Linked DNA regions of Homo sapiens: region 2 is linked to region 1. Evidence: fine-mapped expression QTL. A gene starts in region 1. The other region holds a variant in brackets. All regions are shown on one strand. Distances are between the middles of the regions.

Region 1 (4,394 bases):
AGCGCCACCATGCCAGGCTAATTATAGCTGCTTTCAAACAACAGAAGGGTTAAGTTGTTGCAACAGAGACTATATGGCTAGTGAAGTCTAACATATTTACTACTGGCCATTTACAGAAAAAGTCTGGACTGCAAGGAAGACCAAAAAAAAAAAAAAAAAGGAAAAAGAACAAGTTTGAAGACCCCTCCAACACACACACACACACATAGACACGCTAATGGATGGGTCAGGTAGGGCCACTAGGGCAAACCCATCCATCTCTGAAAGAAATAATCAGGACATTTGTCTTGAGGAGCTGGGGTCAAAATATCTTTCTGAAAAAGCAACATTTTGATTTTTTCCAAAAGAAATTAGAACTGTTTTTTATTTAGGTCCTGTGTTTAATTAAGCCTTACAGAAAATTACCTAAGTGACTATCTTTTCAATTCTCCCAAGGATGGTACTTAGCTGGTACCCCTCTAGATGCAGAGAAGAGAAATTAATTCATTACATAAAATGAATGCCTTAGGGTATCAGGACTTAATTCTGTTAAGAAACCCTGGTGGACAGGGCTGACTTAGGATGTAGCCTAAAAATCAAATTCTTCCTGCCAACCAAGATCCCTTCTGCTCCAGGATTCTGCAGGGACAGGCAGCGACTAAACCAACCCATAAGGGAAGCTGGGTCCTTTGTATGTGGAAGGGGCAGGAAGGTGCTCTCTCAGCACCAGTACCCCAGAGCCCCCGTGAAGTCCCTTGGCTGAGTGAGCCGGTGTACCTGGCCCCTGTTGCCTACTCTCTCCACCCTTATCCACGGCACCCTCTCCATCCAAGAACGCACCAGTGGGGAGCCCCAGGGTGAAGTACTTCTCTGGCCCTGGGTTAAACTGGATGATGCGGTTCCTGATGTATTTAGCCGCCCACTCGCTCGCCTGAGAATAGTGCTCCAGGATGATGAGCTTCATCTTGTCCTGCAGTGGGGGAGAGGGGATGACAGAAAGGAATCAATGGTAAGGGGCAGAGAAAGAGATGGAGGTGGTGGGAGAAGCTTCTCTTACCCAGCAACAATCCCCTTCCCAAGCTGTCTGAGCCAGGAAAAAGGCCTTTCTATTCACAGAGGAGCTAAGAGGCTAGGCCAGTCGTCTCCACCACCCACAGACCACGAGGAGGCGCCACTGGGGGCAGATCTGGGTTCTAATCTCAGCTCCTTCACTTACCACCTGCAGGACCTCGGTCAAAGGACCTAAGTTCTCTCTGAGCCGTTTCCTCCTATGTAAAAATTGGGACAATAGTACCTACTTCACAGACTTCACGACGGGTAATATGAAATGAGAGAATGCATGTAAACAACTTAGTATTTTCTACGTTGGCTGTTACCATCCAGATAGATGCTCGGCTCAGCCCCGCCTCCCTCATCCCTGCCCCTACCGGAACGGGATACCCTACCCCCTCCCCGCCGTCTACCCCAAGACTCTTCCTCCAGAAGTAGAGAGGTCATGGGATCATGCTGGGCCACTAGAGCAGGTGGGGCAATGAGCTCTGCCTGGGGAGCTGTGTGCTCTCTCTGGACTAGCGGAGGGGTCTTCCTACTGGCCCACCTTGCTTTGCGAACCCCTCTGGGTCTTCAGTTTCCCCCAAAGCACAAAAGGGAAAAGGTAATCGCTCCAGAAGGAGGACATTTTGTTCCCCCAGCACTGCGGTTAGTGGGAGTGTGAAGGAAAGAGGCGAAGGTGGCCCGCGCGGTCGTCGGTGGGGTACAGCGTGTCCCCCACCCCCATTACCACCCCATCGCCCCTCCGATCCCTCCTGGAAAATGTGTGAGGGCGGCTCCCCGGGGTCCCGACCCCGAGTGCCGTAGGGCTGGGGCAGCGCTCCGCGCTCCGGCCCGCGAGGAAGGTCCCCGCCAGCCCTGCTACCCACTTACACGGACGCCTCCCGCGGCGGCTGCAGCGACTGCGCCGGCGGCCCGGCCCCGCGCGGGTCACGTGGCTGCGGGTCACGCGGCGCCGCGTGCGCCGCCCGCCGGGCTGACTCAGCTTGGCCGCAGCTACCCGGACCGACTCTCCCAGGTGGAGGAGTTCCGGCCACTCAGTCCCACCTCGGTCCCTGGCCCCGGCAGGCCCTGGAACAGACCTTAAAAAACACTTTCCCTTGGGAGGCGGGGATTCGAGTCTGGTTTGTGTGTGTGTGTGTGCAAGAGGAGGGAGACTTGAGGGGCGCCGGGTCGCCCCCAGGAATACAACCCCCTGGACCTTGGGGCTGGGGCCGGGGGGTTTTAGTGCAGGGGTTGAGCTGGGGGCAGGCAAAGCAGAATCGCTTCCTCAGTCTCCTAGGGTTGGGCCTGGCTCTGCCTTCAGTTTCTTTCTTTGTTTAGATGCCATTTATTTACCCAAGTATTAAAACTTGTGTTGTTTAAAGTACAATTGGGCTTTTTAATGTCCTTTTTTAAAGATCAAACTTTGCAGCATTATATAATAGAGAAAAAGGCAGGCCCCTGGTTTCCCCAACTCCCCACACCAAGATAACCATTGCTTAGTTTAAGAGTACATTCTGAATTGCTTTCTTTGAATATGCTTACACTGTTATTTTACATAAATGGGAACACATACACATGAGGCTTATATATATCAAGGCTCGGATATTTGACCTGCATTATTTCACTTAATCCTTATTAAGCTCCAGTGAGGTAGGTTTGCCGTTACTTTTTAACAGGTGGAGAAACTGACGCTTGGAGAGAAAAATTAACTTGGCCAGAGGCACAAGTGGTTTCCCTTGTGCCTTCAATTCAGGGGGATCTGTCCAAATCCAAAATCCATGCTTTTTACCGCTAGCGGGCACTGCCTCCCAGCTGGTATGACTGGATTTGGGACGCTTCCATATCAGAAAAAGAGATCCATCTTATTCTTTCCAGTCAACATTAGAGTGTTCCAGACTTCTAGGGACACTTGGGAACTTTCCATGCGGAGGCTGGAGGAAGGACTTGAGTGCTGGTCATCAGTAACATCTTCCATTACATAGGGTTTTGCCAGAGCTTTGTGCGCATTATTTCATAGAATCCCGCCCAATCGTCAGATATGATTACCGCCATTTTATTGATGTGGAAACTGGGGATCAAAGGCGTACAGAGACTTGTGATATATGACCTCATAGTCTGACATCCCGGACTTTAGTCAGTGCTAGGGAGCAGTGGTGAGACCTTCTGAATCAGCCTAGTTTTCCTCCAGCAGCAAAAGGCCAAAGGAATCCTGGCTTTATGCCCACGGGACAGGGCCTTCCTCAGTCAGCCGGGTGGCCACGTTCTGCAATTCTGCTGAATCTGCTCACTGTGGACAGCCCCAGGCGCTCACCCAGCCCTTGGGCCCAACTGCAGCTCCAGACCAGCTTGCTAGGGGTAGGCTTCATCTGGTGAGGCCCTGATGAGACCAGATGGTGGAGCTGATACCTTTACAGTGTGGGGGACTTGCTCTTTGCCTCAGTGTTATTTTGTTTTGTTTTGTTTTGTTTTCCAAATCCTGAGAGGCTGTGAATGGCTCGGTGTTGGTGTAGTTTTTGTTTATTTTTAAATTCAGTCAGAAATCTTTTTTTTTTTTTTTTTGAGATGGAGTCTCGCTCTGTTGCCCAGGCTGGAGTACAGTGGTGTGATCTCTGCTCACTGCAACCTCCGCCTCCCGGGTTCAAGCAGTTCTCCTGCCTCAGCCTCCCGGGTAGCTGGGATTACAGATGCCCACCACCATGCCCAGCTAATTTTTGTACTTTTAATAGAGATGGGGTTTCACCATGCTGGCCAGGCTAGTCGTGAACTCCTGACCTCAGGTGATCTGCCCGCCTTGGCCTCCTAAAGTGCTGGGATTACAGGCATGAGCCACCGCCCCCAGCCAGAAATGTTGTCTCAGCTTGAGGACTGCAGATGTTTCACAATGAAGCTCCAACTCCAATCTCCGATCACGTCTGATAACATGGGCCAGGTCTGCAGCATCTGCATCCAGACCTTTCCAGGAGGAGAGTGACTGACTTCTGGTGACTAAGCCCATTTCCCCTGAGTTACCCCTTCTGCAGGGAACCAGTGCAGGGTCTCTGCGAAGCCTGGAGGCTCTTGGATCAGCGTGGGGACTAATCGGAAAGACCTGCATTTCAATTCTGGTCTGGCTAATTTCTGGTTATTTAGTGAGTAATTCAAGCAAATGACTCAACTTCTCCAGGTCTCAGTTTTCTTACCTGAAACATAAGAATTGAGTGGAAATTAAGTAATACTGCCCTCGTGTGGCTGTTGTGACTATTAAATGAAATATTAGCATAGCATGGCATTCACAGCCAGCTGTTATTACTTACCCCTTATTTCCTCCTAACCCTCCTTACAGCCCACTCTCTAACCATACTGAAATGCTCTCTAGCCCTAACCTCCTGACTCCCTGTACT
Region 2 (4,353 bases), 22 kb before region 1:
TCATGGTCTTCCATTCAGGACATTTTGTGTAAAAATTGAGGTTAATTTGCTGGGCACAGTGGCTCACGCCTGTAATCCCAGCACTTTGGGAGGCCTAGGCGGGCGGATCACGAGGTCAGGAGTTCGAGACCATCATGGCTAACACGGTGAAACCCCGTCTCTACTAAAAATACAAAAAATTAGCTGGGCATGGTGGCAGGCGCCTGTAGTCCCAGCTACTCAGGAGGCTGAGGCAGGAGAATGGCATGAACCTGGGAGGTGGAGCTTGCAGTGAGCCGAGATAGCGCCACTGCACTCCAGCCTGAGCGACAGAGCGAGACTCCTTCTCAAAAAAAAAAAAAAAAAAAATTGAGGTTAAAGAATAAATTAAAGATAAGAAATGGAAATTAAAATGATTTGTTCTACAGTATATACCTGAGAAGAGTGATTTCTGTGATCAAAGAGTTCAATTCAGATTTATTCAGAAAGAGCTACTCAGAAGCTCTATAGTTCGTGAGCTACTTGATATTTTCTAGAGATCATTTTATGTTAAGCTGTTATACATTGTTGATGATGTCATAGAAGTAGGAAAGAAGCCTTTATAATACAGTTTTATGAAAGAAATGGGAGCCTTTTTTCCCATTTATGATATTAAAAACAACACAGGTATTTGGTGTTTAGTCTCAAAAATTTGTTTGGTCACCTTAGTGATTCTTAGGTACAAAGTCTTCATCACTCAATTTTAACAAAGAAAATAGGGCTTATAAAGTTATACTTTTGAAGCATGAGTTATGAGCTAATTTTAAGATGTATAGTTTTGGTAGAGTACTTTTGTCTCAGTAAAATGAAAGATTTGGGTAACTCCCCAAATGCCCTGTAAAACAAATGGGTTTGTGGAAGGTTGTGGTGTCAGCAAAATATATGATAGAATAAAGAGTTTTGTACCTACCTTAATTTCATGAAAGCCTTTTTTTATGAGTGGGTTGAGATTTGCCATAAATTAGTATGAATTTCATGGGCCTTTTTTCTTTTTGAGACAGGGTCTCACTGTCACCCAGGCTGGAGTGCAGTGGTGCGATCATAGCTCACGGCAGCCTTGAGATCTGGTCTCAAGCAATCCTCCCACCTCAGCCTCCTGAGTAGCTGCGACTGCAGGCACATAGCACCATGCCCAGCTAATTTTTTTTTTTTCTTTTTAGTAGAAATAAGGTCTCGCTATATTGCCCAGGTTGTGAACTCCTGAGCTCAAGTAATGCTCCTGCCTCAGCCTGCCAAAGTGTTGGGATTTACAGGCATGAGCCACAGTGCCTGGCCTCCTGGGTGTTTTTGGGGGAGTTTGAATAGTCAGTGTCTCTTCATTTTTATATAAAAGGTTTGGGTCTAGAGCTGATAAATGAAAATAAGCTATCAAATAACTTATTTATTTATTTATTTGAGATGGAATCTCCCTCTGTTGCCCAGACTGGAGTGCAGTGGCACAATCTCAGCTCACCGCAGCCTCCACCTCTCAGGTTCAAGTGATTCTCCTGCCTCAGCCTCCCAAGTAGCCAGGACTACAGGCATGCTCACCGTGCCCAGCTAATTTTTTTGTATTTTTAGTAGAGATGGGGTTTCACCATGTTGGCCAGGCTGGTCTCGAACTCCTGACCTAGTGATCCACCCGCCTCAGCCTCCGAAAGTGCTGGGGTTACAGGCATGAGCCACCACGCCTGGCCATA[A/ATT]TTTTTTTTTTTAAATCAAAATAGCTCTGTGACATTTTAAGCTTGTGATCGAACTAACTTTAGGGCCTGCCTTTGTCAGTTGAGATGCATCTTGTTTCATCCATTTTTCTTTTAGTTTAAATTTTTATTATTATAATTTTTATTTTTTTAGCTACCCTATTAACAGACCATCCATTTTTTAAAAAGAAACTTTTTATTTTAGAATATAGATTGACAGAAAAAGTGCCAAGATTGTACAGCGTTCCTATGTACCCCTCACTTGGTTTTCCTTATTAACATATTAGTGCAGCACATTTGTCATATTAATGAAGTAGTATTGATATTATTAAGTAGAGTTCATACTTTATTCAGATTTTCTTAGTTTTACCTAATGTCCTTCTTCTGTTCCAGGATCCCTTCTAGGACACCACGTTATTATATTTAGTTATCATGTCTCCTTAGACCCCTCTCAGCTGTCACAGTTGTCTCATCTGTTTTTATTGTTATATAAACATTAATTATACCTTGGTACATCTGGATTGGGCAGGAGCCAGAAAACTTTTTGAAGACAGATTACCTAATCCTAGCAGGCTCAGCAAATCAGTGATTTCTTTTTGACTGAGGTCTTTTGTAGCTTTAAATCAGTTACTTCTCAGGATGCTTCAGTGCTGTGTATGCAGTTTTAGGCTGTTCACCTGTTCTGGTAATTTTCCTGCTCGGCTTCTTGAAAAACATCATTAAACACTGGGCAAGTTGATCAAGTCAGGAAGTCAGCTGGACCCATTAGACTGTGCCCTGGTGTGAGAATTAGCCTGCCATCTTGGCTAAATCCCGAAGTTTGTTGAGTAGATGTATCCCTTCCTGTTGACCTGTGGAGGAGCTGGTGAACGTAAGAAAGGCTCAGTATCAGAAGCCATATTCCCAGACAGATTTGTGGTGTTAGTCAGCAGTCTTTTTTTTTTTTTTTTTTGAGACGGAGTCTTGCTCTGTCACCCAGGCTGGAGTGCAGTGGCTTGATCTCGGCTCACTGCAACCTTCGCCTCCCGGGTTCAAGTGATTCTCCTGCCTCAGCCTCCCAAGTAGCTGGGATTACAGGTGCCCACGACCACACCCAGCTAATTTTTTATTTTTTATTTTTTTTAATTTTTAGTAGAGACGGGGTTTCACCATGTTGGCCAGCCTGGTTTCGAACTCCTGACTTCAAGTGATCCACCCATCTCAGCCTCCCAAAGTGCTAGGATTACAGGTGTGAGCCACCGCACCCAGCCCAAAGTCATTTGCCCAAAGTCATTTTTTTAGTAGTAGACAGTTCTAATTTACATTAGTAATCTCTTCATATACTTTGTATTTATTTTTTCTGTCAAGAGCAATGAGAGTTAATTAGAGGAGATAATAATAAAGTTGTTCACGTGGCTGTCTGCTTTGAAAGGGAATTTCAGAATTTTGACTGGAGTTTGGATCTCCCTCCTACCTAGTATTAACTTTGCCATAAGCATCACCAGCAGGTGGCAGCAGTTCCCATGTTCTAAAAATATCGTCACTAGTTAAGACAGGTATAGAGTATGTTGTTTTGTTACAGAAGTAGATTTAATTTCTGGTATTTAAATTTTCCTCATTATATTTCATTATAGTCTGTTTTATACTTTAGTAGACAGAATGGTATCTAACAGTACTATCAAGGCAGGAACAGCAGTATTATCAGAAATTTTTAAATACTCAAAAGTGTATGTGAACCACAGTTGACATCTTATGCAATTGTTACATAGTAGAGTGTCACTCCTGATAGTGGCACTTAACCTTCAACCACCAAAGTAGGGAAATTAAGTTGTATATAAAGCCCCTAAGTAGGACCAAGGAATTGTAACCCCATGGTGCCCTCTGATGCTGGTAAGAGTAGCCAGCCTGCTCCCCAAACCTTAGCTTAACTAAAAAAATCAGGCCAGACTGAGTGTGGTCAGAAATCTGGTTATGGGAGCTTTAGGGGTATTCTTAGCCAATGTTTATGGTAATAATCAACTTTCATCACCCATCGTTTAGACTGTACAGTTTCTCAGGTTGTCTGAAGATTTACCACTCCAAGGACTCCCACATTTCTCTGAGCCAGAGGATGCTTTGGAGAAGATTGTGTACATTGGAAACTTAGGGAGATTTGATGCTGAAGTTGCTAAGTACAAAGTTAACACAGTCACTTCTTTTCCTTGCTTGGATCTCCTTTTTTCCCTTCATTATAAAAACAAACCAAAAAAGGAAAAGCAGCTAAACTCACACTAATACAACATAAATACATGTAAATTTTAAAAGCGATTGTCTTACCCTCAGTACCATTCTACTTTTTGCAACCTATAGTATTTCCTAGAATAACTCACTTATTTAACAAATACTGATGGAATACCCAGCAATGGGCCTTACTCTTTTTCAAGGTGGTGAGAATGTAGCAGTAAATAAAACAGACATAATCTCCCTGCCCATGTGGAACTTAAATTCTGGCGGAAGGAAAGAGACACTAAGTAAATTATCTGGTTCATCAGAAGATAAGTACCATGGGTCGTGCGCAGTGGCTCCCTCCTGTAATCCCAGTGCTTTGAGAGGCTGAGGTGAGTGGATCACTTGAAGCCAGGAGTTTGAGACCAGTCGGGGCAACATAGTAAGACTCCGTCTCTCTTAAAAAACAAAAAAA

Evidence for each region. PIP is the estimated chance that this variant, and not a neighbour inherited with it, causes the effect.
Region 2: its variant is the best candidate, but not a certain one, in a credible set for the expression of GNPDA1 in whole blood (INTERVAL, PIP 0.69).

What each region holds. Positions count from the first base shown.
Region 1 is chr5:142,011,093-142,015,486 of GRCh38, forward strand. It overlaps GNPDA1 (glucosamine-6-phosphate deaminase 1), which reads right to left and starts at 1,935. Exons shown (of 7, transcript NM_005471.5): 1 at 1,903-1,935; 2 at 820-949. The coding sequence starts at 943. RefSeq lists silencers at 1,060-1,119, 1,791-2,060 and a cis regulatory region at 3,202-3,474.
Region 2 is chr5:141,989,365-141,993,717 of GRCh38, forward strand. RNF14 (ring finger protein 14) reads left to right here. Exons shown (of 9, transcript NM_004290.5): 9 at 1-928. Among named protein-coding and RNA genes, the nearest start is that of GNPDA1, 21 kb to the right of the region's middle. The variant A/ATT (reference allele first, on the strand shown) is at 1,698.